4 linked regions of the Homo sapiens genome follow. The protein of the gene in region 2 interacts with the protein of the main gene of each other region in a pairwise test. Each region holds a gene or a part of one and is shown on either strand. Other genes may lie near its edges. The genes, in order: SLC30A8, PKMYT1, CLDN8 and STEAP3.

What was found.
Region 1: the proteins of PKMYT1 (region 2) and SLC30A8 interact in binary tests that used the Homo sapiens proteins (3 or more experiments, as listed by UniProt).
Region 3: the proteins of PKMYT1 (region 2) and CLDN8 interact in binary tests that used the Homo sapiens proteins (3 or more experiments, as listed by UniProt).
Region 4: the proteins of PKMYT1 (region 2) and STEAP3 interact in a two-hybrid assay, tested with the Homo sapiens proteins (one study listed by BioGRID).

Annotation. Positions count from the first base shown.
Region 1 is NC_000008.11:117,172,995-117,177,253, forward strand, and holds the end of SLC30A8 (proton-coupled zinc antiporter SLC30A8), read left to right. Parts: 3' UTR 1-3,720; downstream 3,721-4,259. UniProt on the Homo sapiens protein: Proton-coupled zinc ion antiporter mediating the entry of zinc into the lumen of pancreatic beta cell secretory granules, thereby regulating insulin secretion.
Region 2 is NC_000016.10:2,972,308-2,977,485, forward strand, and holds the end of PKMYT1 (membrane-associated tyrosine- and threonine-specific cdc2-inhibitory kinase), read right to left. Parts: exon of another isoform or gene 4,762-5,178; coding exon of another isoform or gene 4,725-4,761; coding exon 4,357-4,724; intron 3,506-4,356; coding exon 3,012-3,505; intron 2,350-3,011; coding exon 2,243-2,349; intron 2,111-2,242; coding exon 1,938-2,110; intron 1,851-1,937; coding exon 1,693-1,850; intron 1,178-1,692; exon of another isoform or gene 947-1,177; coding exon of another isoform or gene 909-946; coding exon 831-908; exon of another isoform or gene 758-830; coding exon 646-757; 3' UTR 501-645; downstream 1-500. UniProt on the Homo sapiens protein: Acts as a negative regulator of entry into mitosis (G2 to M transition) by phosphorylation of the CDK1 kinase specifically when CDK1 is complexed to cyclins. Mediates phosphorylation of CDK1 predominantly on 'Thr-14'. Also involved in Golgi fragmentation.
Region 3 is NC_000021.9:30,213,483-30,220,651, forward strand, and holds CLDN8 (claudin-8), read right to left. Parts: upstream 2,616-7,169; 5' UTR 2,444-2,615; coding exon 1,766-2,443; 3' UTR 524-1,765; downstream 1-523.
Region 4 is NC_000002.12:119,226,826-119,233,864, forward strand, and holds part of STEAP3 (metalloreductase STEAP3), read left to right. Parts: intron 1-3,794; 5' UTR 3,795-4,187; coding exon 4,188-4,209; intron 4,210-7,039.

The sequences.
Region 1 (4,259 bases), on a different chromosome or scaffold from region 2:
GCATCTTGAGAACACATAGGTAAATTTGAACTCAGGAAAGTCTTACTAGAAATCAGTGGAAGGGACAAATAGTCACAAAATTTTACCAAAACATTAGAAACAAAAAATAAGGAGAGCCAAGTCAGGAATAAAAGTGACTCTGTATGCTAACGCCACATTAGAACTTGGTTCTCTCACCAAGCTGTAATGTGATTTTTTTTTCTACTCTGAATTGGAAATATGTATGAATATACAGAGAAGTGCTTACAACTAATTTTTATTTACTTGTCACATTTTGGCAATAAATCCCTCTTATTTCTAAATTCTAACTTGTTTATTTCAAAACTTTATATAATCACTGTTCAAAAGGAAATATTTTCACCTACCAGAGTGCTTAAACACTGGCACCAGCCAAAGAATGTGGTTGTAGAGACCCAGAAGTCTTCAAGAACAGCCGACAAAAACATTCGAGTTGACCCCACCAAGTTGTTGCCACAGATAATTTAGATATTTACCTGCAAGAAGGAATAAAGCAGATGCAACCAATTCATTCAGTCCACGAGCATGATGTGAGCACTGCTTTGTGCTAGACATTGGGCTTAGCATTGAAACTATAAAGAGGAATCAGACGCAGCAAGTGCTTCTGTGTTCTGGTAGCAACTCAACACTATCTGTGGAGAGTAAACTGAAGATGTGCAGGCCAACATTCTGGAAATCCTATGTCAATGGGTTTGGTTTGGAACCTGGACTTCTGCATTTTTAAAAGTTACCCAGAGATGCTTCTAAAGATGAGCCATAGTCTAGAAGATTGTCAACCACAGGAGTTCATTGAGTGGGACAGCTAGACACATACATTGGCAGCTACAATAGTATCATGAATTGCAATGATGTAGTGGGGTATAAAAGGAAAGCGATGGATATTGCCGGATGGGCATGGCCAGTGATGTTTCACGTCATTGAGGTGACAGCTCTGCTGGACTTTGAATTACATATGGAGGCTCTCCAGGAAGACGAAGAAGAGAAGGACATTCTAGGCAAAAAGAAGACTAGGCACAAGGCACACTTATGTTTGTCTGTTAGCTTTTAGTTGAAAAAGCAAAATACATGATGCAAAGAAACCTCTCCACGCTGTGATTTTTAAAACTACATACTTTTTGCAACTTTATGGTTATGAGTATTGTAGAGAACAGGAGATAGGTCTTAGATGATTTTTATGTTGTTGTCAGACTCTAGCAAGGTACTAGAAACCTAGCAGGCATTAATAATTGTTGAGGCAATGACTCTGAGGCTATATCTGGGCCTTGTCATTATTTATCATTTATATTTGTATTTTTTTCTGAAATTTGAGGGCCAAGAAAACATTGACTTTGACTGAGGAGGTCACATCTGTGCCATCTCTGCAAATCAATCAGCACCACTGAAATAACTACTTAGCATTCTGCTGAGCTTTCCCTGCTCAGTAGAGACAAATATACTCATCCCCCACCTCAGTGAGCTTGTTTAGGCAACCAGGATTAGAGCTGCTCAGGTTCCCAACGTCTCCTGCCACATCGGGTTCTCAAAATGGAAAGAATGGTTTATGCCAAATCACTTTTCCTGTCTGAAGGACCACTGAATGGTTTTGTTTTTCCATATTTTGCATAGGACGCCCTAAAGACTAGGTGACTTGGCAAACACACAAGTGTTAGTATAATTCTTTGCTTCTGCTTCTTTTTGAAAATCATGTTTAGATTTGATTTTAAGTCAGAAATTCACTGAATGTCAGGTAATCATTATGGAGGGAGATTTGTGTGTCAACCAAAGTAATTGTCCCATGGCCCCAGGGTATTTCTGTTGTTTCCCTGAAATTCTGCTTTTTTAGTCAGCTAGATTGAAAACTCTGAACAGTAGATGTTTATATGGCAAAATGCAAGACAATCTACAAGGGAGATTTTAAGGATTTTGAGATGAAAAAACAGATGCTACTCAGGGGCTTTATGAACCATCCATCAATTCTGAAGTTCTGACTCTCCCATTACCCTTTCCCTGGTGTGGTCAGAACTCCAGGTCACTGGAAGTTAGTGGAATCATGTAGTTGAATTCTTTACTTCAAGACATTGTATTCTCTCCAGCTATCAAAACATTAATGATCTTTTATGTCTTTTTTTTGTTATTGTTATACTTTAAGTTCTGGGGTACATGTGCGGAACATGTAGGTTTGTTACATAGGTATACATGTGCCATGGTGGTTTGCTGCACTCATCAACCTGTCATCTACATTCTTTTATGTCTGTCTTTCAAAGCAACACTCTGTTCTTCTGAGTAGTGAAATCAGGTCAACTTTACCACCAGCCTCCATTTTTAATATGCTTCACCATCATCCAGCACCTACTTAAGATTTATCTAGGGCTCTGTGGTGATGTTAGGACCCATAAAAGAAATTTATGCCTTCCATATGTTTGGTTACAGATGGGAAATGGGAATGTTGAAGGACATGAAAGAAAGGATGTTTACACATTAAGCATCAGTTCTGAAGCTAGATTGTCTGAGTTTGAATCTTAGCTCTTCCCTTTATTAGCTCTGTGACCTCGAGCTAGTTACTTAAATGCTCTGATCCTCTATTTCCTGATCAGTGAAACCTCCCTATTCAAATGTGTGAGAGTTTAATAAATTAGGACACTTAAAAATGTTGGAGCAGTGCATAGCATGTAGTGTTCAGTACATGTTAAATGTTGTTTTTTATTATGTACAAACATGAGTGGGCACAGAATTTTAAATCATCTCAACTTTTGAGAAATTTTGAGTTATCAACACCGTTCCCACAAGACAGTGGCAAAATTATTGGTGAGAATTAAACAGCTGTTTCTCAGAGGAAGCAATGGAGGCTTGCTGGGATAAAGGCATTTACTGAGAGGCTGTTACCTAGTGAGAGTGATGAATTAATTAAAATAGTCGAATCCCTTTCTGACTGTCTCTGAAAGCTTCCGCTTTTATCTTTGAAGAGCAGAATTGTCACTCCAAGGACATTTATTAATAAAAAGAACAACTGTCCAGTGCAATGAAGGCAAAGTCATAGGTCTCCCAAGTCTTACCCCATTCCTGTGAAATATCAAGTTCTTGGCTTTTCTCTGTCATGTAGCCTCAACTTTCTCTGACCGGGTGCATTTCTTTCTCTGGTTTCTAAATTGCCAGTGGCAAATTTGGATCACTTACTTAATATCTGTTAAATTTTGTGACCCAACAAAGTCTTTTAGCACTGTGGTGTCAAAAAGAAAAACACCTCCCAGGCATATACATTTTATAGATTCCTGGAGAATGTTGCTCTCCAGCTCCATCCCCACCCAATGAAATATGATCCAGAGAGTCTTGCAAAGAGACAAGCCTCATTTTCCACAATTAGCTCTAAAGTGCCTCCAGGAAATGATTTTCTCAGCTCATCTCTCTGTATTCCCTGTTTTGGATCACAGGGCAATCTGTTTAAATGACTAATTACAGAAATCATTAAAGGCACCAAGCAAATGTCATCTCTGAATACACACATCCCAAGCTTTACAAATCCTGCCTGGCTTGACAGTGATGAGGCCACTTAACAGTCCAGCGCAGGCGGATGTTAAAAAAAATAAAAAGGTGACCATCTGCGGTTTAGTTTTTTAACTTTCTGATTTCACACTTAACGTCTGTCATTCTGTTACTGGGCACCTGTTTAAATTCTATTTTAAAATGTTAATGTGTGTTGTTTAAAATAAAATCAAGAAAGAGAGAGTTTGGGTTAAGTCATCATCTTTTTATCACCAAAATCATGGCAGGACATGTTTTTCATGACACCAGTGAGGACTGTAATGAGAATACACTCTTTCACTCTCAGTCATTTATTGGAAGAGATATAACTCATTTGGGGAACATACTTGTCTAAGAGAGATGGAAGATAATGTGTTAGAATCAGGGGTGCTTTTGAAATCATTCTGGTCATGGGCATAAAACCCCAGTGGAGGAAGAAGATGGTGGTCAGAGGTGGTAGGAGCCCTTGACGGTTGTAAAAAAGGAACTTGTGCTTCTTCAACCATAAAGCCAGGAAGTGATGAGAGATGTCAAGCTGAATTGCACCCCTTTCAGAAGTGTCAATCAAGTCCTGGAGACAATGTATCATTATAATTGCCCTATATTTCCTTTCTTCAAAGGGGTACCCATTTGTTAAAAACACGATTATCCTATTTACAGCCATTAAAACCCTATGGTTGTTATACACAGTCCAATAGTACTATCAAACATTATTTCCCTGAATCTGTAGAGTTTAGGAGTGT
Region 2 (5,178 bases):
TCCTCACCCTATCCTGTTCCTCCCACCAGGCCTGTGGCCAGTCTTCCTGATCTCCATCTTTCTGCCCTGCATACCAGCCCTCCCAGCAGCCACAAGCTTGCCCGCCCTGGCTCCCTCTGCCCAGAGACTATGGAGTAAGGCATTCAGGACAAAAGGACCAAGGGGGCGTGGACCCGTCTTGTACCAGCTGGCCACAGGCACAAGGGCTGCAGCTGCTTCTTCCAGGAAACTGACACAGGGAGCTCAGCGGCCTCAGATCCTGGGACCCCTGGGCCGTGCCTGCCCTCCACCTTGAGTGCCATACTCCCAACAGCTCCAGGTACCCACCGGGGGATGTGCCTGCTCAGGAAACCTCTTTGCTCCACACAGCATGGGGCTTCAGCTGCTGGCCCAAGGCCAGGAGCGCTGGGTTCTGCAGCAGGGCTCAGCCTCAGGGGCGTTAAGACCCTGGATGACATCAATAAAGGGACAGGAAGGGCCATGTTGCCACATGAGCAAGCTTGGGTGCTCCCAAGGTTCAAATACTTTTTATTAGACACGGCCAGGCAGAGAAGACCATGGGAGTTCCCGAGGGGCCCCAGCTTTCAAGGGCGACGGGAGAGACACAGGATAAAAGGTTAAAAGTGCAGAGGCAGAGTCTGGGGCTCAGGTTGGGTCTAGGGTGTCCTCAAACAGGCTGAGGAGGTTCCGAGGCTCAAAGGAGGGGAAGGAGCCCCGAGGAGGCTCTGAGTTGATGTCACTTAGGTCCAGGGCATCCCTGGGAGGAGAGAGTAGTGACACTCAGGATCCAAAAGCTAGCCCTGCCCACCCCAGCCCCTGGACCTGCTTACCTGGGTGTGCACCTGCTCCGGGGGGTGGAGGTGCTCCCCACAGTCCGGGCCAGGACAGCCTCAGGGGAGAGTGAAGGCCTGCAGGAGGGCAGGCGAGACAAGGAGGGTGTCCAGGGCTAGGGAGTGCCGGATGAAACCAGCTCTGTCCCTGTGCAGGCTCCAGGCTCCCGCCTGACAAACAGGCAGGGAGCCACAGTCAGGGACAATAAAAACTTGGTGCACTCTGAAAGCAGCACTTGGACAGCCTTCAAAGTCCTTCCATCTGGCTGCACTCCAAGGCCCCCTCTGTCCTTTTCAGAACACATGGACTTGGAGGCAGATTTGAAATAAACTTTTAGTAAATGTAAGCCTTTCTGGAACTTCTTGTCTGCTATCAAGTGCCCCGAGGGATGAGGTGATGTGTTTGTAAGGAAGGGGCTAACGGCAGAGTCCCCAAGAGCTGTCTGCCCTGAGCGTGTGGTTTCCTAATTACAGCCTCTCACTCAAGACACCAGGCCCCAGGGACCAAGGACTTGTTCCCAGGGCAGGGCTCCCCAGACTCCAGAGGCTTTCTCTTCCCAGAGAAGGGACAATGTTTTATCCCTGGGCACTGGCAGCCTCCACTGGGGTCGGGGCTGCGCGGCCAGCCACTCCCTGGGGTGCTGGTGCCCTAAGTGTGAAGCCATGCCCTGAACGGCCAGTCCACATGCCCAGCTGCATTAAGCCTGGCCAGGCCACACACCCCCAGTCTTGGTCCCCTTCCCCAGGATGTGATGGGGGCCAGGTTTGTGGGAGTGGTCCCCATTCACCACGAATCTCCATGGAGCCCCGGTGATATCCCCCACCTTCCCCCTAGCCCCCCATACCCTGCACTTGAACCCACCCTAGGCTGTCGTCATCCCAGTTGCTGGAGAGGCTGCTGTCCAGGAGCAAACTGCAGGGTGGTGAGCCAGGCGGGGTGGCTGGCGGGCCCAGGGGCTGTAGCCAGCTGGCAGGGTGAGCCAGCCCATGCCAGAGCCAGCAGAGCAGGGCAAGCAGGGCCTGTGGGGGAGAGGAGCTCAGGATGTGGGTGGGCGGACCCCCGGGGCTGGGGAGCAGGGCAGGCAGCCGCCACTGTCGGGAGCTTACCTGCCACAGGGCCCACCCTCGGCTCAGGGCCTCCGCTGCCATGCACCACAGCACACCCCAGGCCCGCGGCTGCCTCAACACAGGCAGTGCCAGCAGGGCCTCGGCCGTGGCCCGCAGCTTGGGGTCTGGCTCCAGCATCATGACAAGGACAGAACGCAGCTCGGAAGACAGACCTGCCCATGAGGAAGGGCCACATCGGGGTCCCAGAACACCGACTGCACCCTGAGCCCAGCAGTGCCTCCATGGCCAGCCACTATCTCCCCAGGAGCCCGTGGCAGCACCCCCTCCCGCCCTCACCTACTCACCGGCAGTGAACTCAGGGGGCAGGTAGCCCTGGCGCAGCTGCTGCCAGCCCTCCCCACCGTGGGGCAGCTCCATGTTGCATGCCACTTCCAGGATGGTGAGGCCCAGACTGGCAGGGACGGGATGGGGACAGAAAGGGGCAGGGTTGGCCCTGGGACACAGACCCAGTCCAGGGCTGCCTCTTGGAGGTGGGTGGGAGAGGGCTGCTGTCTTCATCAGTCAGGGAGGGGCGGAAGCAGGGGGAAGGGACACCCCAACAGGCCTGATCATGAACCCTGGGCAGGATGGGGACATCATGGAATATGGGCTCTGTGCCCAGGGAGCCCACAAGCCACAGTGGTGAGTCCTCCCAGTGCCCTGATGGACAGGCACCACAGTTACTGCTGGCAGGTATTACTATCCTGATGATCAGGGCAGTGGTTACCAGTGTGGACCCTGGAACCCAGCACCTAGGGCCAGTCTCAGCTATGCCACTTGCTAGCAGTGGGCTCCGGCAAGGCCCTTAATCTGGCTGTAAATGGAGTGACAATTGTTTCTCCTGTGGAGCTGTGAGGAGGCAGGTTACACAAAGTGGCTCTGGAGGGTTCGAGGCTCACAGGCAGCCTGACCAGAGACGCTCTCCACTGGAGGGCAGGGATGGCGTCTCAGCCTTGTGGCTCTGAGGCCGGGTGTCCTGGGCTAGGGTGGAGCTTCCCTCCTGGGGAATGGAGCTTCCGTCCCAGGAAGGGCCTCCCACAGCCTGCCAAACACCTGGCGTGCCCCGGTCCCCACCTGAACACATCCGCTGCTGTCCCATAGGAGCCCTGCAGCAGCTCGGGGGCCATGTAGCGGGGGTCTCCCTCCTGGACCTCACCAGCTCCTGCTGTACCCAGCTCCACCAGCAGTCCGAAGTCACCCAGCTTGCAGCGGCCCCGGGGCCCCAGGAAGATGTTGGCAGGCTTGACATCAAGGTGCACCAGGCCCTGGCTGTGCAGATGGGCCAGGGCAAGCAGCGTGTCCCGCAGGTAGCCCCAGACCTGGGCCTCAGGCAGGCTGGCACCCCAGGCCTCACAGTGTTGCTGCAGGCTGGGCCCGCACAGCTCCGTCTGCAGGTACAGGATGCCGCCCTCCTCCCAGGCCTGCTCCAGCCGCACGCAGCATGGGTGCTGCCCCACCTTCTCGTGGCTGCCCACCTCGGCCAACTTGCGGGCCCGGTCCTTGGGGCCCCGGAATGGTGACATGGAACGCTTTACCGCATAGAGCCGGCCGTCCTCCTTGGAGCGCACCTGGAAGGGAGGTGGTACCCACGCACACAGTGAGGGTGAGCCACAAGTGGCACAATCACATAGGGGGACAACCTGGCAGACCCCATTAAGGGTTCACACACGGGGCACGGTGGTGTAGCTGGCATCTGTCTCAGACCCCTGCCCAGGGTAATAACAAAACCAGACAAACCTCCATCCCTCGGGCTGGGTCTGTGGAGACCCAGCGACGGAGGAGCCAGGGCCGACCTGCACTGACCCCAGGGGACCTCTTGGATGTGTCACGAGGTGGAAAAAGCAGCTGCAGAGCAACACAGGCAGCCCAGGCTGTGGTGTGAAAAGTGGGCTCCCCTGTGAGAAAGCTGACCTGGGGGCCAATGTTGTTTGTACTTTTTAACAAAATTGTCTTCATACAGGACTCATACAAGGGAAAACTCCTCTCTAAAAGAAAATATAAATGACTGGAAACTGTGTTTAAGAAAAGCAAGATGGCAGGCAGGGGGTAGCTCAAAGCCTGCCAGCCTGGGGAGGGCTGGCCAGGCACTGCACTCAGGGCCAGTGCCAGAGGCTGGGCCGACTCGCCAAGGACGCTGCACAGCTGGCGCCAGGGCCGGAGGAGATGGCACAGGGGCTGCTGCAGGGCGTGCCAGACTCTGGACAAGGGGCCAGTATGCACAGAGCAACCCCTGGAGGGGCCTGCATTGGGGATGATGGGAGCAGCCAAGTCAAATGTGGAGGGAGCCTGTGAGCCCAGCAGGGACAGGCTGTAGGGAACGGAAGGGGATCAGGCTGCCCAGGACACTGTCCTGCCAAGGGAGGTGCAGAAACACAAAGGAGGTCCCCCAGATGGGCCTAGAAGCCGTCCCCTCACTCACCTTGAAGACCTCTCCGTAGGAGCCATGGCCCAGGCGGCTGAGCCTCTGGAAGCTCTGCTGGAAGAAGGACTCTGGCCGGCTTGGGTCATACCCAGGGCTCTGCAGAGTCTCTGAGGCCTCGCCCCGGAATGACACCCGCCGGGGCTGCAGCTGGTGCCAGCCTGGGGTCCGAGGAGGGAAGAGGCGGCTGATGGGAATGCTGCCCTTGGCAGGGGGCGGAGGTGGGAGGCTCCGGCTGAGCCCCCTGGGCCTCTTGAGGGAGAATCCAGGTTCTGCGTGGCGGAAGTAGGCTGGGACTGGGATGGGGGTGCCACTCAGAGGTGGCGGGGTGCCCTCCGTGGGCATGGGCATGGCCAGTGCAGGAGGCCCTGGGGGCAGAGACAGAGGCTGAGTACAGGGCAGCATGTCCACTCTGATACCACCTGGCCCTGTGGCTCCAAAGAGGCCACAGAAGAGAGCTATGTCTATACCACACACTTATTCTACTTTAAACGGCAATGGGAGCAATAAGCACCTACCAAGAAAAGGCAGAGGACAGATTCATACTCACCTGCCCACCAGGCTGTTGTATTTTAGAGATGATAGAAACATAAGAGGAAAACCATGGGGCCCGTGTTCTTGAGGGTCTTGCAGTCGGGTTAAGAGCAAGGCAGTTTGGAGTCAGACGGGCTGCGCCTGCATCCCTGCCCTCATCACGGCCAGCTCTTTGATCCTAAACTACACAACCTCTTCCGAGACTACACGGGCCCACGATCCCTTATCTCCAATTCCAAAGTGAAAACCCGGAATCCCTCAAGTGTCTTTCTTTTTCATAACTGTCGT
Region 3 (7,169 bases), on a different chromosome or scaffold from region 2:
CTCCTGATTCTATTGAGTAATCAATGAATTGTTCTGAGATAGCCTCATCTTTGAATTGAACTAATAACATTATCAGTCTCATAAAAGATTTAATAACAATTCATATAAGCAGTAGAGGTCCTAGCATGTAATACATGCCCCCAGAACATTAGACAATATTATTTATTATTTCTCAGAAGTAGAAATATATATTTAGCTACAGAAAATTTTTCAAACCTGGCTGTTATATACATAATATTTATAACATATAGATTTGCTTGAATTTATAGTACTATCTTAAATTATAAATATATTATCTGCATTGAATATTGGTATAGGGATCCAATGATTATAAGGTATATTGTTGTTAAATAACATAAATAACATAGAGTACTTTATATTTTCAAAAATTAATGCACTGTTTGTCTTTACAAGGCAAATCTTGACATTCTTTCTCAATTTGGAGAATAAAAAATTATCAGGCTTTTCAACATTCTTCTACAAGTTAATAAAACAGAAACAAAAGGAGACTTGTGAAAGAATGTCAAATAATTAGAAAAATGTACAATTTATTAATATAAATGTATAAAGCAAATAGAACACATTCATTTAAGCTAGACAGACGTCGACACAAACTTTCAAATTGGATTGTCAGTTTCATCAAATTTGGAATAAACAGAAAAATACAGTATTTACAGATTTTAGTAAAACTAAACAGAAATGGTACAAGAAGGAAATTTATTTTTCACAGAACAAAAATGACAATTTTGACTCAGGTACCCACATAGGAGCAGGTGAAGTTCTCAAAGGACAACTTTTTTTGTTGTTGTTTTTTTGGTAAGCAAATGAAAACCAAGACATATTTTTCTGCTCTTTTATTTATATTGATGAAACCTCAAAGTCTGTACTCAAATACTTATTAAAATATATCCATACATATATGATTTCTTGTCAAAATGCATCATTCTTCTTCAAATACAAAAACAAAAATATTTTCACTTTCCTAAAACCATCACTTTTTCTTAGATCACACTTTTATCTTTCTTCTGAGTATAGCCCTGGAAAAGCAGTTTGAATGCAAAGCCCCTTGACAAAATATCTGCTTTTTAAAAATGTTAATTTAATACACAAGAAAAAAAAAGCCTCTGGGAGAAGAGGATAAAGAAGTTAGGATTTCTAACTCCTAGGCTAAAAAACAGCATATCAGAAAGCCATTCAATTTCCTTTACAATGCTGATTAAAGCCTTCATTTTAATCTTCATTATAAATGGAGGACATTAATCCCTAAGCTGTTTTTAAACAATTAATAGTAACCTTCTTCAACCCTATCCATGATTTCCCTGAAAAGCAATAGTTGAGTTCTATTTATTCAGTGTAATGGACTGGCATTTCATTTTAAATAAAACCATATAAGCATGTCTCTATGTGAGATATAAATGTTACACTCATCTATGTACATAATGCTATGTCGTGGAGAAATTACAGTAGTAAAATAATGCAGTCTTTAGCAATGTCATTTTGAAGTAAATGATAAAAAGAGTAGATGCTTGAACCACCTTAGAAAACAAATTACTATACTTTCTAGAACAATCAAAGCATTGGGTTTAATATCTCATTCTGCTGAAATAGCTTATAGAATCATAAATAGCTGATGCACAGTTCCTGTAATTAAGATTAGGCAGTTAAGAACAGTAAATCAAAGTTTCTTTGGGGTCCATTTTGAGAAAGTAATATAGATTTTTGTCATTTGCATGGCTTTATAGTAAAGTTAAAAAAACATACACAACTACACATACTGACTTCTGGAGTAGACGCTCGGTGACTTCTTTCCGGTGTGATAACTTTTTTGGGTTGTGCGATGGGAAGGTATCGAGTATCTGTAGCTACTGCTCTTTTCGTTGCAACAAAAAACGCAGCAGAACAGAGCTCCTCCAACAATCAGCACCAGTGCCGTGGTCCATCCTAAGTAGAGAGCTTCTCCAAGCTCACGTTTTTGGGCAACATTCACTATTGAGTTATAGAAATCTCTGATGATGGCATTGGCAACCCAGCTCACAGGGATGAGCACCACCATGCCCGTGATGATGAAGATGATTCCAGCCGTCAGCAGAATGTGAGCCTTCACCTTCTCATTGTCCCCCGTGCACCTGGTGCATTTCATGCCAAGGATGGCCATCATGAAAGCCAAGAAGGACATCACGGAAGCAGCACACATCAGTCCTCTGGCTGCCTGTAGGTCCGGAGAAAGAGCCAGCAGGGAATCATAGATTTTGCACTGCATCCTGATGTTAGCCTGCCTCACGCAATTCATCCACAGTCCTTCCCAGAAGTTTTCAAAAACCACGATGTTGTTTTCAATGAAGGCCGACACTCTCCACTGAGGCATGACAGTGACAGCCACTGTGCCCACCATTCCAACACCACCAAGAAACAGCCCAGCGATTTCTAAGGCATGGGTTGCCATTATCCTCTGGGATGAGTTTTAGCCAGCTGGACTCCGGAACTGCTACTTCTGCTTTGAAGCAGGGTTCTCTGTGCCACAGAAGAGAACAGTTTTTCCTGTAGTAATGAACTCGGAACCCAGTGGTTTTTCAAATAAGAGCTGCTTTGCTACTTCTGGCCAGATAGTATCCAGTGCTGGCTGGCTGAGATGGCCCTGCTATTGGCTGCAACAGGTAAACTTACAAATCAGGTGTGGCAACTTTCTCAGCCAATAAAAGGTGGATGGTAATCCAGGTGTGTCTAAACCAACACTTGGGTACTTGGAACAGCTAGACCTGCACATAAACATTCTTTATACTTCTCGGTCTTCCAAGAAGACAGCAGTATGTTTACCTGTAGGCATAGTTATAAGTGGTTGCATAAGCATCAAGAAATGAGCCGATCCCTTGTAATGTGAAAGGTGCACCTTGTACAGGCAATTCTGAAACTCTTAATAAGAGCTGCTGGGACCAAGGGATAAAATAAATTATCTGCCGAAGAATTCTGCAACGCTGTTGAAATGCCAAAGTGAAACGAGAGTAGGGGATTGAAAGATTGCTTTTACCTGGGAAGCCACATTCTTTGGGACACATGTGATCCAAGTGATTGATTTAATTTTTCTACAACTTCAAAGCAAGCTCTACTGTGGTGAAATCAGGGAACAGATCATGCCAGAGGACAAAATAAGCTAAAGTAATTAAATACACAAGGCTGTCCTTCTCCTTGGCACTGAAAACATATTGGAGTTCTTTAAGCCAGAAAAAATACTCATTGACACTTTTCTGATAATCTTCACTTATAAAAACATTTTTTGCCAAAATAAAAATCACCAGATGATTATCTTATGTATCCAGCACTATAGCATTAAAATAAGCTTATGAGCTTATTTTGTGGTGTTATTCTTGCTGCTTTGAATTCCTGGGCTGAAGGAACTAGAATTCTGAAGATGACACAAGACCCTTGGGCCTATACAAATGGCTGATATTTCAAAATAAGATATTTACAAGACAAGGGAACTATATTTACCAAACTGTATTATATTAGGTATTAACCAAATATGTTTTCCTACCTTTTAATATTATGTCTGCAGTAGGACATAGAAACCCCTAAACGCAAGACAATTTGAACTTTCTTCTCAAAATAATGATGCTCTAACAGTAGTGCTATACTAAGCATAAATGTTTATCTGAGAAAATTCGACTAGCAATTTTCTTCTGGAGATCACCTTAAGCTCTCTGTCTGATCTTTCCAAAGTTTAAGCTGCCACTTCATTTTCTTTTCTTCTTAACATCATAAAAAATGATTTTCTCTTTACAGTTTTACTTTCTCTCTGTTTCATTGGACTACCTTAAATCCAAATATGGGAGAAAATCGTTTCTGCTCACTGATTAAACTTTGAGAGTTTCATGGTTCAAAAAATCTGAGTCATTTGTGGATATTATTAAAACAAAAACTATATGGTAGAAAGGGCAAAAGGAGGATCAAGTAGACTGTCTTCTAAAAAAGAGGCAGGACAGACGCACAGTAGTATGAGTTGTTATAATTTTGTTAAACAGACGTTATAAACCTTATAAAAAGTTAAAACTTAATATTTACAGAAATATTCTCATTTGTTGACCTGTGAGGTGCCAAACTTCAGGGTGTCCCTTAGGCTGATGCAGAAAATATGCAGCATTTGGCCGGGGCGGTGGCTCACGCCTGTAATCCCAGCACTTTGGGAGGCCGAGACGGGCAGATCAAGAGGTCAAGAGATCGAGACCATCCTGGCTAACACGGTGAAACCCCGTCTCTACTAAAAATACAAAAAATTAGCCTGGCATGGTGGCGGGCGCCTGCAGTCCCAGCTACTCGGGAGGCTGAGGCAGGAGAATGGCATGAACCCAGGAGGCAGATCTTGCAGTGAGCCGAGATCGCGCCACTGCACTCCAGCCTGGGTGACAGAGCAAGACTCTGTCTCAAAAAAAAAAAAAAAAAAGAAAAGAAAATATATGACATTTTCTTCATCAAGTTTCTATCAGTTACAGATTTGTGGTGGAGGGAGACTTAGATTAATCTTGGGAAAATAAGATTTTAAAAGTTGAGATTTTAAACTTTCAAAGTTTAAGAAGTGAGCAGAAAACATTTTCTCCCATATTTGGATTTAAGGTAGCCCGATGAAGCAGAGAGAAAGTAAAATTTCAAAGAAAGGATCATTTTTATGATGTGAAGAAGAAAAGAAAATGAAGTAAAGCTTAAAGATTTTCCTTTTGTGCAATCCACAAAAGGAAAAATGACATATAAACAGAAGATATTTTTCATCTTTAATTGTCAAACTGGGAAAAAGGAGTGATTGACAGAACTGAAAAATGAAAAAGAAATAATATAACTGGTTGAGATAATGACTACGTGAAGCTACATTTTAAGGGATGTCAAGGCATATATTGCTTCATTGAAATTTCTTTTCGAATTCCCGTGTGGCATGTTTCTTAGGAGCTCTGTTTAAATATTGCTGACTATCCACATCAACACAGGAACGCATGAGACAGAAGCAGAAAGCTCTGCCTCTGAGTGCCTCAGCCGTTGTGGGAGCTGCTTCCCAGGTACGCATTCATATTTCTTGGCTTTGTGTATTACCAAACCTCTCTTCCCTTGAGGCTTGAATTTTACCAGGAACTTATTTTACATAAAAATATTTTCCTTATTTCAAAAATATTAGGTACTTTACTATTGAAATTGTTCTAGCCAAAAGATGAGGATCTGAGTGGGAAATTAACACTAGGTTCACATTAGAATTATTGTACAGTTAATTCCCTACTAGGAAGTGGCCCAGGGTTTCCAAATAGGTTCCTTATCAGACAATGATACAGTTAACTCCATAGTATTTATAAATAACCATGTCCTAAAAGACACTGGAATAAAAAGACAGAAAAAAATGGTAATATTGAGTTTGCTAAAGACAAAAGGGGCCTAAATTCAAAGATAAAAGGAAACTGTTATCTACTTTTCTGTCCTGCTGAATTGATTAACTTGGCTACAAAATTCAGATAGCAGTAATAGAGATATAACAGATTGATAACATTTTTACTCTAATTTAGAACTACAGAGCAAAATACATCGATTATTCAATAGTTTGTACTTCCATTTCCATGAAGAACCACAGTACTACCAAGAACCCAGGAGAGAAATGAGAGCTCATGTCAACCCCCTCTCCACCCTCCCTCGGGCTTTTCTGTCTGTCAACATCATCATAAGGCATGATTTAAGTTTAGCAATTAAATTTGCTAAACTGCATTCAGCCCTGATAATAGCATAACACAGGCAAATGCTTTTTCTTCCTAAATGATAACATACAAATCACTATCAGATTGTCTTATGCCCATTAATCCTTAACCTAATTCAACTCCACAGTCTTGGATTTCTATTAATTCTTATCACTGTTTGAAATAATTTTTGCTTCTGCCTATCAAGCAAAGGTCAATTTCTTTTGTTTTCTGGATTTGCTTTGTAGTTTTCTGTTGTGATGACAGTTTTTCAAGGGTGTTTATTTTTAACTATGTTCCACTGTTAATTAACCATACTTGGCCAACCATCTTGTCCTGAGAGAATAAGTGAACATATCAATAGGTCTCTGTGTTGTTCCGAAAATACTGTTGTGCATTGCTGTATGTTCTCTTGAACCATCATCTTGTTTGTTTTTCATGATGGCCAGCTATGCTTCCAGTTCTCTATCCATTAGCAGCCCTCTCTTTTTACCATGTCTCTCTTTTTTCTTTTTCTTTTTTTTTTTTTTTTTGAGATGGAGTCTCACTCTGTCATCCAGGCTAGAGTCCAGTGGCTTGATCTCAGCTCACTGAAACCTCTGCCTTCCAGGTTCAGGCGACTGTCCTGCCTCAGCCTCCCGAGTAGCTGGGATTACAGGTGCACACCACCACAGCTGGTTAATTTTTGTATTTTTAGTAGAGGCGTGGTTTCACCATGTTGGCCAGGCTGGTCTCGAACCCCTGACCTAAAGTGATCTGCCCACCTCAGCCTCCCAAAGTGTTGGGATTACAGGTGTGAGTCACCATGCCCAACCGCTCTTTTCACCACCTCTGTGTGATCTATTTTCAGTTGCTCTGCTTAAAAATGAACTCCTTACTGCATAGAAATTGCCTAGTATCTTAGCCAATTCAAGCTGCTTTAACAAAATACCACAGACCAAGTGGCTTGAACAATGGAAATTTATTTCTCATTCTTCTGAAGTCCCAGATCAGGGTGCCAGTGTCACTGGGTTCCGGTGAGGACCCACTTCTCAGTTTATAGAAAGCTGTCTTTATGAGATGACTTCACATAGCAGGGAGAAAGTGTGAGCTCCAGTCTCATTCTCTTCTTATAAAGACACTAATACCGTCATGAAGATTTCACTTTCATGACCTCCTCTACAACTCTCAAAGTTTCACTCTCAAAGACCTCACTTCCAAATCCCATCACATTGGGGGTTAACATTTCAACATATGAATTTAGTGGGTACACAAATATCCGGTCTGTAACATCTAGCTACTAACAAATTCAAGCAATAAAATTTGCATAATTCTGAAGGGTCTACTGGTGCTTAAGAACTTCACCCATATTATATCACCCATATCAATATTTCATTTTTCCAAGATGAAAAAAGAATGGTGAACATGAATTAAAAAATCAATAATAGAAATAGTGTCATGGACATGTTTTTACCTTTCTTTCGCTTTTCA
Region 4 (7,039 bases), on a different chromosome or scaffold from region 2:
TCTACAGGAGCTCATTTGTACCTGGAGACTCTTAGGAGGTCGATAATGTTATTCTCCCAACCATGTGACTTTCCAACTCCATATGGACCCCAACCTCTTTTTTTCCACCCCTAACCTGAGACTCCTAGCCACTAACTAACTGCCACATTCTCCTGTCCAAATTCTGCCTCATCGGTTATTCATTCAACAAACACTTACCGAGCACTAACTTTGAGCCAGGCACTCTAAGACCAGCTGAGTCCCACTTCTGGCAGGATGAGTGTTGTTGTCATCAACCACCCCACAAACACCCGTGCCCTCTGCGTACTTGCGAATCTGAGTGAGGAGACACGGTGGCAGTAAGGCTCAGGACCTATAGCTCATGTGAGTGAGCAAGGATGCAAAACCAAAGACACCCGCTCCCCTCACCCACTGAGCTGGAGGGATCAACCACTGTGCCTGCCATCAGGGCTGATGGGCGACTGCTTGTGGATCACAAACTCTTGCGTTGTCACTTCAACCCAGGGGCAGAGTGTGTTCCTCTTCAGGTGTGGCCTGGTCTCGTGAGCCCTGCACTGAATGGGCCAGGCGTTCATTGCTTCAGCACCGTAAGAACACTGTCACCGGAGAATTGTTCGATACTCAACTCTTCCCAGTCAGTCTGTCTTCTGCATGCCCACAGTTACCGGGCAGCGTGGGCAACAAGTGAGCACTGATTGTTCCGCAATCAGGCTGTGACTTACTCCATCTCTGCCTTCTGCTTAATGAGAGCCAGGTGGGAGTTCAGCAAAGATCACATGTTTAAGCCTTGTTATTAAACACGTTAAAAAAATACTGCCCCAAGATTATAAAGCCGACTTCGGTACATATAAAGAGATTTGGGGTCGGTGAATGGGCCCACTAAGCTTTATTTTGTGGTGTCAGCTGTCTTGGTTCATGTGTAGACAGCAGGGCTCCCAAAGCCAGCATGCTGGGGTCTGTGAGGGAACAAGCTTCCCATTTCTTGTATTTATTTATTTATTTATTTATTTATTTATTTTTTGGAGACAGAATCTCGCTCTGTCACCTAGGTTGGAGTGCAGTGGTGCCATCTTGGCTCACTGCAACCTCTGCCTCCCGATTTCAAGCAATTCTCCTGCTTCAGCCTCCTGAGCAGCTGGGATTACAGGTGTGCTCCACCACACCCAGCTAATTTTTGTATTATTAGTAGAGATGGGGTTTTGCCATGTTGGCCAGGCTGGTTTTGAACTCCTGACCTCAGGTGATCCACCTGCCTCGGCCTCCCAAAGTGCTGGGATTACAGGTGTGAGTCACCACAGCCGGCTGCTTCCCATTTCTATAAGCATCCGACTGGTGGGGTGGCCAGTAGGCTGTGGGGAGTGGTGCGTGATTTTCCTGGTGGGCTTGAGAGAGTAACAGTATACCCCCAGTCAGGGCAAGTGTCTCTCTGAAGGTGAACTCTGGGTGCACAGCTAGAGGATACAGTGGCTGTGAGCTGGGCCCTCCAGGTGAGGTCTGGCCTGCCCATTGCCACAGTGGGCTTGCTGGCATCCAGGGGGGCTTTCTGGGTGACTGCCCAGGCCTGCACATGAGTCAGTAGCACGCTGAATGCAGTGGAGTTTGAGGGGACCCACCACTGTCCATCAAATCGCCCCAACCTGGGTGAAAGGCCAGAGCAGCTGCGGGAAGTGACACCAGGCCCTCTGGAGATGACCCTCTGGCCCTTGGAGATGTCTCTGGACTGGCCAGAAAGAAGGTGGTGCCTGGAACTGGAAGGGAAGGAAGCAAGACAGTGCTGGGCCCAGCAGCCAGAAATCAGGGTGATGGGTGGGTGGAGGGGCAGGCATCTGGGAAAGCCCTGCCCTCCTGGTGTTCCCAGATCTGAAGGCTGGAGGCTGGAAACCTTGTGTCACCTGTGCTGGTGTGAGTTCCATTGGGGCTGCCGCTTACCCTCCCATGACCTTTAACATCTGGCATGGCTTGTGGGGGGTGCTGAGAGGAGGAGAAGTCTCAAGGCTGAGGGAGCTCAGGGTAGAGCCAAGGTCTCAGTGAGAACCCCAGGGGGCAGCTGTCACAGCTGACCTGGAGCCCTCCAGGAACGCGTACTCTCCAGCTCCTGTACTCTCAAAAGCAACAGAAAGGTTTGCTTTCCTCAGGTGCGGTTTCCTCACAGTGCAGCTTCTCCAAAGAGATCTGGAGACCCCCCAGCAGCTTTGACAGGAAAATAGAGTCCTATCCACCCCACACCAACACACTGAAGTAGAGACTCTGGGCCTGGGGCTGCCCAGAAACCCACCCACTTAAACTGCCCGGGCGATTCTGGTGTTCACAAATATTTGAAAGCACTGCCTGACACCTGCTGGCTCAACAGGTGTCCACCTAGGCTGGAGTACAGTGGTGCCATCTCGGCTCACTGCAACCTCTGCCTCCCAATTTCAAGCAATTCTCGTGCCTCAGCCTCCCGAGCAGCTGGGATTACAGGTGTGCTCCACCACACCCAGCTAATTTTTGTATTATTAGTTCACCTAAGCAGAGAGCGATGTGAGGGGCTGTGAGGATGTGCAGGGGTGGAGGGCACTTAGGTCCCTCCCTCAGCTGACCATAGAGCACCCAGAGTGGCAGAGGGGCCACGTGCAGTGAGTGGCCACAGCAGAGCAAGGAAAGGTGCACACAAGAACAGTCCTAAGGAAGACATGTGTTTAGGGGTTTCATATTCACTGTTTAATCATCAGGACAGAGAGGGAAAGCAACCTACCCAACGTCACACAGCTAGCACATGGCTGGACCGGAATTCACACACATCTCTGTCCAGCTAGGTCCCCCAACTAACACAGCTGCCTGTCTGAATTCAAAGCCGGGAGAGATTGTCAGGGGTGGGCGTTGGGGGAGATGGCAGGTGCCTTAAGTGCCCAAGGCCTTGGGCTGGATCTTTAAGGAAGGGGGATTGGGATGGGCCAGGAGGTTGTCAAGATTGGAGATGGAAAGAATGCCATTGGCTGTGGTGGGGGGTGGAGTGGGCAGGGACTGGAAGGAGGGGTAGTGGAAGTCAGTCCCTGCCTACAGGCCTGTGTTAGACTCCGCGGAGATTCAGGAATCTAGCCCTGCCCACAGGGGCTTTCACTCCAGTAGAAGAGAGGAGACCCAGGGGGCCACAGCAGTCAGAGAACAATGAGGCCTTGGCTTGGTGTTTGGTGATGATAGGGGAAACCTGCCCAGAACCTGTTTATCAGATGCTCAGGGATCTGAAAAACAGGTTCTGCATGTGGGCTTGAGATAAAGATGCCCGGGATACTTAGATGTGCCCTATTCCAAGATCGCTAGGTTCCAAACAAGTTGAAAACAATAGAATACACTTATCCCTAAGAATGGGCTTGCACATAATTCACTTCAACAATGCAAAAGCTTCCAAACCTCCAGCCTCCTTTGGGCTGCCGGTGTGGCCTCCAAGGTCCACTGAAAAGCCATCCCCAGCCAGCAGAAACATGCCTGTGTCTTCTTCAGCCCCCGTCCATGCTTTGCCCTGGAGACAAGTGCTGTCATCTGTTTGTGGGTCTGTCTGTCTGTCTGTCTGTCCGTCTTTCTCCCCACTGTGAGCACTGACAAGCAAGTAAAGATGACAATGAAGCCTTTGTGGGCACCAAATGCTGACAGCATTATCACTAAGCCAGTGGCAGCCATGGTGACTGCAATAAATTTCCCCCACAGAAATTGATAAATTGCCACTTTCTGCAGCCATTATGTTTGCCTTTGTATCCCGAAGAGTAAACGCCTCTCTCCCTTTCTCTCTCTCGCTCACGTGTGTGTGCGCGCGTTAGATGACATTTATTCATTTTATGCATCCTGGGTTCTACTGGTCGTCCCACCTCAGTTCCTGTAGCAAAGAGACTTGAGTCTGAGCCACTAATTATCACCCGTGAGGTTTCCTCCCCGAGCAGGAAGCAGCAGGCCAGAGCTGCGCTCTCTCAGTGCACTCTCCAACCAAGCATCAGTCACCACTCCCGGTCCAGCCCCTGTGGCCAAGAGCTGGCGTGCAGGCTGCGGGAGGCAGCTGGCTGTGCAAGACCCTGGCAGGGCCCTCGCCTCCTGAGAAACCGAGAGTCAGAACCAAAGCCAGGCTGTCCTGGTTGGAGACTGAGCCAGAAAGGGTGGCTCACCTCACGGTGAGGCTGTCGAGTGACCTGAGAGCCTCAGACCCTCACGTCAGCCGGATGTCGCACCAGCCTGCTGTTGGTAAGTCTGGCTAGGACGCAGATCCAAGGGGGCATGGGTCGTGTGCAAACCCCTCCCACCAGCTCCCTCACCACCTGACCCCTGCCCTGCTGGAGGGTGCCCCTTGAATCTCCAGGAGGTCCGAGGAACTCGACACCTCCCAGAGATCTGTACTGCCTTGGAACAGGCTGCAAAAAGTGCAGTATGAAATGGGAAATATGTATCAGCTGCACGTTTTCATGGCCCCCTTTGGAGGAAAGGGAGTCCAGGTTATTAAGTCAGGAGGCTTTTAAATTTCAGGGGTTCAAGGATTTATCACACACAGTTGCGTGTGTGTGTGTGTGTGTGTGTGTGTGTGTGTGTGTGTGTGTTTAAGGATGTTAATGTTTATGATGCATTTCTGTGGAATGCAGGCCCATTGGGAATTGTAAATTTTTCTTATTGGTAACCATTTCTGCATTGGTTTAGCACGGAACTGCTGCTGCAAGTAAATGAACCAGATTTTTCTGGAATGATTCGAAAATCTAGCTGTTTGTAAAAAGCTCTCTAAATTATTCATTCACTTTTATTTTGCACAGTTGTGTGACGGTAAACTCTTTTCCATCAGACGAAACTTGCGCGCACGTGTATTTCTGCGGGGATTGGCTCGAGTGTGCTTGAGTTTTCTGTATTCTCTTTTGTAGGAACTTCTCAGCCTTCCTTTTAAAAAGATAATAATTTTTTAATGATGTCTAAATAATGATTCCAGGCAGTATTACAAGAAATATAACAGTAAAACGTTTGTAAGAGTCCATCAGAAAGGGAAAATGCCCACAGAGAAAAATAGAAATCTACCAATTAGATGTGTGTGGCTATAAGTGAGCTTTTAAACCATGATTTGAGACTGGCATCCTCTGGCCTCTCTGCCCTCAGGTCAGCTGTGGGAGGCTAGGGGTGGGATAGCAAAAGGGACCTGGGATCAGGTGGGGCTTCCTGGACCCCAGGCCCAGTAAGAATGAAGCCTAGGGGTTCTAGGATAGGGGGCAGCCCTGGATTTGCAGAAACAGCCTGAGAATGAGGGGCTGGAAAGTATGAGTTGGAGCAGCTCAGTGAGGAGACAGAAAACTGAAGCAGAAGAAAGCAGAAGACACCAGAGTCTGGTGCTGACTGGGTGACTGGCTGTTACTCACATCCTGAGCAATGAGCCACAGACCCTCCCCACCCCAGAGGCAGCTTGAATGCAGGGACTGGATGGGCCCAGGGCACAGTGGATCCGGGGCAGGCAAGAGCCAACTCGGGGCCCAGAGGAGGACCTTTAACCTGACTGGGCCTCAGTTTTCTCTTCTGCAAAGTAGAAGGAATTATAGCCTTCTGCAGGTCAAACCCTGTGCCCACATCCACAGGCACGATCCCCGACTTCGCCTCGCTGGCACTTCTCTGCATTTGACTCCTGGTTATTGCAGCTGTGCCCATGCCAGGCATTTGTTAGGTGCTGGGATGTGCCTGCCCCGCTCCTCTCTGTTGGGGAAGACGGAATTCATGCTGTAGGGGAGGCCCGGAGTTTCTACATGGGGCAGTCACAGGGTGGGGGACTTCCCTGAAAACTTCTTATTTGCATAAAATGTGCGCTGCTTTTGACTTATATTGTAAATTTCAGATCCATAAAATGGGAAAGACTTTGCAGAAGCTGTTATTCACTTTACCTGACTGGGAGATGTAGATTGTTCATATCCAAGGGTGTTAGTTTTAATACTAACATTAGCATGTGGGGAAGGGTGATCGAGATGGTGGGGAGTAGGGCCCCCCACCACCTACCCCTGGGACCTCTAAGGGAAAGTACACACCACCGTATGCTAGTTGCATCCTGTTACCTGTGCTGCAGAGCCAAGGGGCCAGAGGCAGGGAAATTAATTCTGCCTTGTAAAGGCACTGGGCCTTCCTGTTGAATTTTGCTACTTGCGGGGAAGGCACTTCCCAGGCAAAAAGATTAAGCCTATAACCTAAGCAGAAAGCAAGCAAGAGCTTTGGGTGGGAAGTGGCCAGAGACATAGATCAGGCAGACCCAGGTTTGGAAGGGCCAAGGAGACAGCACATCTGCCAATGGCAGCAGCTGGGCCTCACCTGCCCTGACACCCCCACCTAATGGGGACTGGGCAGAACCCTCCAAATGGTTGCCATGCCCTGGCCCAGGAGCCTCCAAAAACCCTGAAGCCATTGACTCAGCATCCCTGAAGCCTCCTTCCATGAGTACCCCCATACCAGGCTGCACCTCAATGCACCTTAGATCTGGTGTTTGATTTTCACTTTGACCAGATCTGCAGCAGTCTCTTTGTTAATATTTATTTCCAGTGTTTACATTCATCTTTGCATAAGTCCTCAGTGTTACTAAGTTTATCAAATAGCGAAATGCTTGGCCAGGTCTAACAATGTCACCAAGCTGCAGAAGGGATTAGAAACTCATAGTATTATTATTTCATCACCACTGAGTACAAGAGAGCCCCAGCTAGGTTCTGGGGAGAACAGCTATGACTCACAAATACTCCCCTCCCAACTCACAAATACTCCCCTTAGAATCTAGTCCTTAAATCATTCAAACCACAAAAATGTATTGAGCACTTACTGTGTGCTAGGCCCCGGTAGGTGTTAGAGGCACAGAAATGAGTTTTTTATTGGCCCCCATCCAATGAGGTGACAGACAAGAGAACCAGTGTGTGCAGCCAATGTTAATGTGACAAAAAGTGCAGAGTTAGTCCCAGAGCGTGAAGTCCTCCCTGTCCTAGGCCCAGGTGGAGGCCAGGAGCTGCTCCCCGGGCTGCCTGGACCAGACTTTTGAGCTCTTGGGACCCTGGCGAACATCAAAGCTGTTGCAAAA